Linked DNA regions of Homo sapiens. The protein of the gene in region 2 interacts with the protein of the main gene of each other region in a pairwise test. Each region holds a gene or a part of one and is shown on either strand. Other genes may lie near its edges.

Region 1 (3,745 bases), on a different chromosome or scaffold from region 2:
GACAACTGGCATGAGCAGGTGCACCTGCCCGCGGGCCACCTGGGGTAGGTGAACATTCACCCGGTGCACGCTCAGGGGCGCGCAGCACTCAGAGGCAGGCTGAGACCCACAGATGCCATGTGCGTGTGCATGCCCATGCAGGGCACGTGTCCTGGGCCTGCACCCCCCGTCCCCCATGCACTGAGGCTGGTTCACACGGCTGCTCACCTCACTCTTCAGCTGGAAGATTTCAGCCTCATGCTGCTCATGTAGGTGGTGGGTTGTGATCTGAATGTCGACCAGCTCCTTGGAGATCTGTGGGTGGCCAGGTGAGAGGTGGCGTCTGTGGGCCCTGCTGGCACCCTCCCTCCTCACGAGCACGCTGGGGCCCCACACCCACCTGCAGCTGCTGCTCCTTATTGAGCGCTAGATCTGGTGGGACCTCTGCTTCCAAGCTGGTGGCCCACACTGCGGTGCCCCCAGGAGCTCCTGGCAGCCAGTCCTTGGCTCGTAGCACAACCTGGGGAGGTACCGCCACCCATTCCCCAGGTGGGTCCCAGGCTGGGCTGTGGCCCCACTCCCATGCAGTCACCAGTCCCGCCTCCCTGCCTGGCTGAGCTGTAAAAGTCCCTCTCCTGGCTGAAATTAGGCCCAGGGTGCAGGAACCTGCACCCTCCTGGCCTTTGGGGGAACGGGCAGACTTCAACCCCATGGCAGGAGCGGCAAGTCCCAGAGGACTCACATTCTCCACCCGCCGAGAGGGAGGTCCAGGCCTGGGGCCTGTGGTGGCTGCGTGCTCCATAGGCTAGGGAACCCTGGCCAGCTCCGAGCCCGGTGCTGCCTCCACGCCCGGCTTCCCCATGGCTGCTGCTGCCACTGGCACTGCTAAGTGCGTTGCCAAGGCCTCTGTTGGTCCCAGGTGACTCCCAGGGCACCGCCCACAGGGGCCGGCCAGACCGGTGGTTGCTGAGGAGGGAGGATAGCTCTTCCTCTCTCCATGCCTCCGTTTCCCCATCTGGGGAATGCGGCCCAGCGCCCCCTGCACATACCCTGTGCAGATGGAACCAGGTGCGTGAAAGCGCCCAGCCTGGGCGCAGCGGACGAGCACGCGGAACGGAGCGGCAGCCCGCCCGCAGGATGCCCTGAGCTACACTCGCTGGACACCTTCTGTGTACCTAGCAGTGCTGGCTGAGCCCCGGGACGGGGGAAGTATATCTCTGCACCTCTGGCCTGAGAAGAGGGGCGCAGACGTCCCCATCAGGGGCCGGAGAACTCGGAAACGACTGGCTCAGCCGGGGCGTCGGGAGGGCTTCCTGGAGGAGGTGCCAGCGCCGGGCGCGGCGGGGTCGGAGCGTGCGCGTGGCGCCCCACCGGGCACGCGCACCGCCGGCGGGCCTTGTGGTCTCATCGCGCGCAGGATCCGGGCCGGGCGGGGGCGGGGGCGGGGCGCGTCCGCGGAGGGGGGCGGTTGGCGGCTCCCGAGCCCAGCGCCGCGCTCAGTCCGGACCCCGTGACCGGCGGCCGAGGCCCCGCCTCCGTCAGTCTGTCCTTCGGGTCCTCAGCACAGCCGTGCCGGTGAGGCGGGCGGCGGGGGAACGCGGCTGTCCCGGGTCAGGGGTCTTGCGGCGGCAGGGCGGGGGGCCGAGGGGCGGGGCCTGGGAGGAAGGCGTGGCCTTTGGGGACTGGGGCTCGGACTGGGGGCGGAGCCGGGGCTGGTTGGGGACCGGCCGGGTTCCGCTCCTGCTGGAGCCCGGTGCGTGGAATTCCACGCGAGTGCCGGGGAGTTCCTGGGGAGCCGGGCTTCTCTTTTGGCCCCCAGCGTGTTGACCGAGCCCGCTTCGCACAGCCCTTCCTAGGGTGTGGAGAGCGGGCCCCGCCCTGAAGGGGCACCGTGGGCTGGGGGGCCTGTTTTGGAGCAGGCACCGGTGGCCGAGCTCCGTGACCATGAAGGTCAAGGTCATCCCCGTGCTCGAGGACAACTACATGTACCTGGTCATCGAGGAGCTCACGCGCGAGGCGGTGGCCGTGGACGTGGCTGTGCCCAAGAGGGTGAGGGCAGGCCGCGGGCCGCAGGGACCCGGCCGTGTCCCCCGAGAGCCTCCCCGACCCCCCTGGTAGGAGCGAGCCCCCACGTGCTCTGCTCTCCGGAAGTCATTGGCGGCTGGGGTTCCTTGTTTATCTTGGGGCTCCCTGAAGTTACGGCACCTCTGGCCTCCGCCCTTTCGCTGCTGCCTGGCGGTCCCTGCACGCGCTGGGCGCAGTCACCGCCCGCTGGGTCCCCGCTCCCCGGCGCTCCCCGGGGCTCTGGCCGGCCTGGGGCAGTGAGCGCGGCGGATCCCGATATGGAGGGAGTGGGCCACCGGGACCGTCTGTGTTACCGTCACTCCCGTCCCTTTCAGCTGCTGGAGATCGTGGGCCGGGAGGGGGTGTCTCTGACCGCTGTGCTGACCACCCACCATCACTGGTGAGCGCCGGCGGGGCGCGGGGAGGCACGAGGACGCCGCCTTGTCCCAACCCGACCTAACCCGGCCCCCGCCCGCCCGCCCGCAGGGACCACGCGCGGGGAAACCCGGAGCTGGCGCGGCTTCGTCCCGGGCTGGCGGTGCTGGGCGCGGACGAGCGCATCTTCTCGCTGACGCGCAGGCTGGCGCACGGCGAGGAGCTGCGGGTGAGCGCGCGCTCCCGGGAGGGGCGGGGAGGGCGCCCCGGGTCCACCCGCCCTCACAGGTCCGCCTGCTCCTCCGCCGCAGTTCGGGGCCATCCACGTGCGTTGCCTCCTGACGCCCGGCCACACCGCCGGCCACATGAGCTACTTCCTGTGGGAGGACGATTGCCCGGACCCACCCGCCCTGTTCTCGGGTACCCGCAGCGCGGAGCGCGCCCACCCCGCCTCCCGCCGGCCCCGCCCCATCTGCTCTGACCCGCCCTCCCCCGCCAGGCGACGCGCTGTCGGTGGCCGGCTGCGGCTCGTGCCTGGAGGGCAGCGCCCAGCAGATGTACCAGAGCCTGGCCGAGCTGGGTACCCTGCCCCCCGAGACGGTGAGCGGGCCTGGGCCCTCCCCTCTTCTCCCGTGGGCACAGCCCCCACGCTCCGCACCCTCACTGTGCTAGGGGTGCAGAGTGAATGCCCACCTGAGGGCAGACCGGGCAGGGGAGGCCAGGCCCCCGGCGCAAGCACTTTCCCCGCTTCCTGGCCGCGTGCGCGCTCACCGAGCGCTCTTCCTCCAGAAGGTGTTCTGCGGCCACGAGCACACGCTTAGCAACCTGGAGTTTGCCCAGAAAGTGGAGCCCTGCAACGACCACGTGAGAGCCAAGCTGTCCTGGGCTAAGGCACGGCCCCTTTCCCGCCGCGGCAAGAGGGTGGGGGGGGAGGGAACAGGCTTCGGGGTGGGGGGGGCTCTCAGACAAGGCCTAATGGTGACCGGGGCCTGTGGTCACTCCAGAAGAGGGATGAGGATGACGTGCCCACTGTGCCGTCGACTCTGGGCGAGGAGCGCCTCTACAACCCCTTCCTGCGGGTGGCGTGAGTATGGCTGTTGTCCCGGGGCCTCCACCGTTACGTGGACCCTTAGGAAGGCATCTGGGGACTGCGTGTTGGGCTGAGTGAGCATCTCTGGCTTGGGGGAGGCTGCTCATTAAGTGCCTGCCTGCCCGCCCACCCCTCGGCGCCATGCTCCCGCGTGGGCAGCGGGCCCTGCGCCTCACTGCACCCCTCCCTGCAGAGAGGAGCCGGTGCGCAAGTTCACGGGCAAGGCGGTCCCCGCCG
Region 2 (3,645 bases):
CTACAGGCATGCGCCACCATGCCCGGCTAATTTTTGTATTTTTAGTAGAGACAGGGTTTCACCATATTGGCTAGGCTGGTCTTGAAGTCCTGACCTCAAGTGATCTACCTGCCTCAGCCTCCCAAAGCCCTGGAATTACAGGCGTGAGCCACCGCAAATGGCCCTATATATCTTTGTTTATAGTCTGTCTTCCTCCACTAGAAGAATATCAGCTCCCTGAGGGCAGGATTTGTGTCTGTTTTGGTCACTGCTATATCTCTAGTGCCTAAAAAGGCCTTGCACATAGCAAGTGCATGATGGATATCTGTTGAATGAAGGAAGGAATAAAATGAAGACATCATTGAGCTCCTGGATCCAGCTATGCCTGAAGCCAGTCTTGTGAAATGAGATAAGAAGATACACACCCACAATGTCTCTCCAGCCTACACCTCCATCTCCGAGACCAGGTCATGGCTGGTGGATTTCTTGCTGTCCACACTTTCGTCCTGGCCCTGGGACTCCCTCAGGGCCCAGTGACAGGCAGCTGGCAGTGACCGGCGGAGTTGAGCCCTCCCAAAATACAGGAAGAGCATGGGATTGAGGCAGCTGTGAGCGAGGGCAAGGCCCACGATGAGGGGTTCAGCCCGCAGGGCCCTGGCCAGGAGTGCGGAGTTCGGGGCCGCCACAGTGAGCACCAGCCCCAGCAGGTGGTAGGGTGCCCAGCAGACAAAAAACCCCACCACAATGGCTGTGCCCAGCGGCCGGCAGCGTCGGGCTGCCCAGCACAGGAGGGCACTGTGGCAGCTGGCCACGGCCACCAGGGGCCCCAGGAAGCCAAAAAGAAACCGGATGGCAGTCACCGCATTCTCGGTGCTGGAGGAGCCGCCGTAGTCCACCACACACTGCAGCCGGGCTGGGAAGTGCTCCTGGTGCAGCCGGCGGTAGATGGCGGAGGGCACGGTGAGCAGCAAGGCCAGTGTCCAGGCTGCCCCACAGGCCACCTGCACCCCGCACGCCCGCTGAACCGTAGACCACCAGGCAGGCCCGAGAGCCAGGAAGCAGAGGTCGGCACTGAGAGCTGCCAGGAGCAGGACGCTGGCATACATGGTCAGCAGGATGATGGAGGGCAGCGCCCGACAGCCCACTGCACCATACGGCCAGTGGCCTCCACGGGCAATGGGCACTGCCAGGATGGGCAGAGACAAACAGCACAGCAAATCCGCCACGGCCAGGTGGAGCAACCAGGTGGCACCCACCCTCCGGCGGGCCACCTTCCCAGCCACCCAGGCCACCATGGCATTGCCCGGCACCCCCACCAGGAAGATGGCGGCATACAGTGGGAGCGGGGCCACGCGCAGCGGGTCGATGGCCAGGCAGGCGCCATCCAGGCAGTCCACAGGGCGGTCCGAGAGGTCGCTGTAATCCCCATACTCGTAGCTGACAGAATCGTTCCCCATTCAGGCTCCTGGTGTCTGGGCAGGAGAGAAAGACGATGAAAACTCAGAGGAGGAAACTCCATGGCCCTGGAGATCTAGGGTGTCCATCAGCCCGGCCCACCAGCACCTTGCAAACTGGAATATTGCGTCATAAGGACTCCAGTGCTTTAGAATATTGGAATTCTAGGCCGGGTGTGGTGGCTCACACCTGTAATCTTAACACTTTGGGAGGCCAAGACAGGTGGATCACTTGAGGTCAGGAATTCAAGACAGGCCAACATGGTGAAACACCGTCTCTACTAAAAATACAAAAATTAGCTGGGTGTGGTGGCGGGCACCTGTAATCCCAGCTACTTGGGAGGCTGAGAATTTCTTGAACCCAGAAGGTGGAGGTGGCAGTGAGCTGAGCTCACACCACTGCACTCCAGCCTGGGAGACAGAGTGAGACTCCATCTCAAAAAAAAAAAAAAAAAATTGGAATTCTAGAACTTAGTGTTGTTAGAAGTGGCATCTTGGAATTCTAGAATATTACAATGCCAGAACCCTAGTACATTGGAATATTGGGGCTGGGCACGGTGGTTCAGGCCTGTAATCCCAACGATTTGAGAGGCCAAGGTGGGAAGATCACTTGAGGTCAGGAGTTCTAGACCAGCCTGGGCAACATAGGGAGACCCCATCTCTACGAAAATTTTTTAAAACATAGCCAGGCATGGTCATGCGTGCCTGTGATCCTAGCTGCCGAAAAGGCTGAAGTGGGAGAATCATTTGAGCCCAGGAGATTGAGTGAGCTTGATCATACCCCTGCACTCCAGCCAGGATGACAGAGAGAGACTCTGTCTCAAAAAATAAAAAAAAATAGGAAAAGAAAGAAAGAAATGAGCAAAATCCAAAATCCACAGTATTTTAGAAGATAATAAATACTATGGGAAAAATATCACACAGGGAAGCTGGCTATGTTGGAGTTGTACAGGCATGGTCAGGGAAGGCTTCTTGAGAAGGTGACATTTGCATAAAAATCTGAAGGAACAGTGGGAGAGATGCATCGAGATCTGGGGGAAGAGTGTTTCAGGCATCGAGAACAGCCAGTGCAAAGGCCCTGAGGTGGGAACATGACGGTCATGTCCAAGAACAGCAAGGAGCCCAGTGTGGCTGGAGTGGAATCTGCCAGAGGGAGAGGGTGAGAGGCAATAGCAGAGTCATCAGGGGCCGGGCACAGTGGCTCATGCCAGTAATCACGGGAATTTGGGAGGCCAAGGTGGGTGGATCACCTGAGGTCAGGAGTTTGAGACCAGCCTGGCCAACATGGTGAAACCCCATCTCTCCTAAAAACACAAAAATAACCTGGAGTGATGGTGGACGCCTGTAATCCCAGCTACTCAGGAGGCTGAGGCAGGAGGGATCACTTGAACCAGGGAGGCGGAGGTTGCTGTGAGCTGAGATCATGCCAGTGCACTCCAGCCTGGGCAACAGAGCAAGACTCCATCTCAAAAAAAGAAAAAAACAAAACAAAACAAAACAAATGAAAAACAGTTATCAGGGGCCACGGCATGTAGGGCCACGTGGGCAACGCAAGGACATCATCATTTATTCCAAATGAGACAGGTGCTATAGGAGGGTGCTGAGCAAGGAAGCGACATAATCTATCATAGCAATAATTTATTTTTTTTGAGACAGAGTTTTGCTCTGTTGCCCAGGCTGGAGTGTGGTGGCATGATCTCGGCTCACTGCAACCTCCGCCTCCTGGGTTCAAGCAATTCTCCTGCCTCAGCCTCCCAAGTAGCTGAGATTACAGGTACATGCCACCACACCTGGCTAATTTTTGTATTTTTAGTAGAGATGGGGTTTCACCATGTTAGCCAGGCTGGTGTCGAACTCCTGACCTCAGGTGATCCACCTGCCTCAGCCTCCCAAAGTGCTGGGATTACAGGCGTGAGCCACCATGTCGGGCCACAATAATATTATTACTATATTATTACTATTTTTTGAGACAGGGTCTGGCTCTGTAGCCCAGACTGGACTGCAGCGGCACTTTCCCAGCTCACTGCAGCCTCCATCTCCTGGGCTCAAGCAACCCTCCACCTCACCCTCCCAAGTAGCTAGGACTACAGGTGCACACCATCATGCCTGATTAATTATTATTATTATTATTATTATTATTATTATTTTGGAGGTCATCTGGTTTCACCATGTTGCCCATGCTGGTCTTGAATTCTGGGGCTTAAGCAACCTG

Evidence for each region. Proteins that work in one complex are often made in the same cells at the same time.
Region 1: the proteins of C5AR2 (region 2) and HAGHL interact in a two-hybrid assay, tested with the Homo sapiens proteins (one large-scale study listed by BioGRID and IntAct).

What each region holds. Positions count from the first base shown.
Region 1 is NC_000016.10:725,587-729,331, forward strand, and holds the start of HAGHL (hydroxyacylglutathione hydrolase-like protein), read left to right. Parts: upstream 1-1,519; 5' UTR 1,520-1,923; coding exon 1,924-2,028; intron 2,029-2,378; coding exon 2,379-2,443; intron 2,444-2,529; coding exon 2,530-2,647; intron 2,648-2,729; coding exon 2,730-2,838; intron 2,839-2,917; coding exon 2,918-3,018; intron 3,019-3,207; coding exon 3,208-3,309; coding exon of another isoform or gene 3,310-3,422; coding exon 3,423-3,502; coding exon of another isoform or gene 3,503-3,582; exon of another isoform or gene 3,583-3,701; coding exon 3,702-3,745. Other genes in the region: CCDC78 (coiled-coil domain-containing protein 78), read right to left, coding at 1-294, 380-781. UniProt on the Homo sapiens protein: Hydrolase acting on ester bonds.
Region 2 is NC_000019.10:47,338,591-47,342,235, reverse strand, and holds part of C5AR2 (C5a anaphylatoxin chemotactic receptor 2), read right to left. Parts: intron 1,750-3,645; exon of another isoform or gene 1,624-1,749; intron 1,452-1,623; 5' UTR 1,437-1,451; coding exon 423-1,436; 3' UTR 1-422.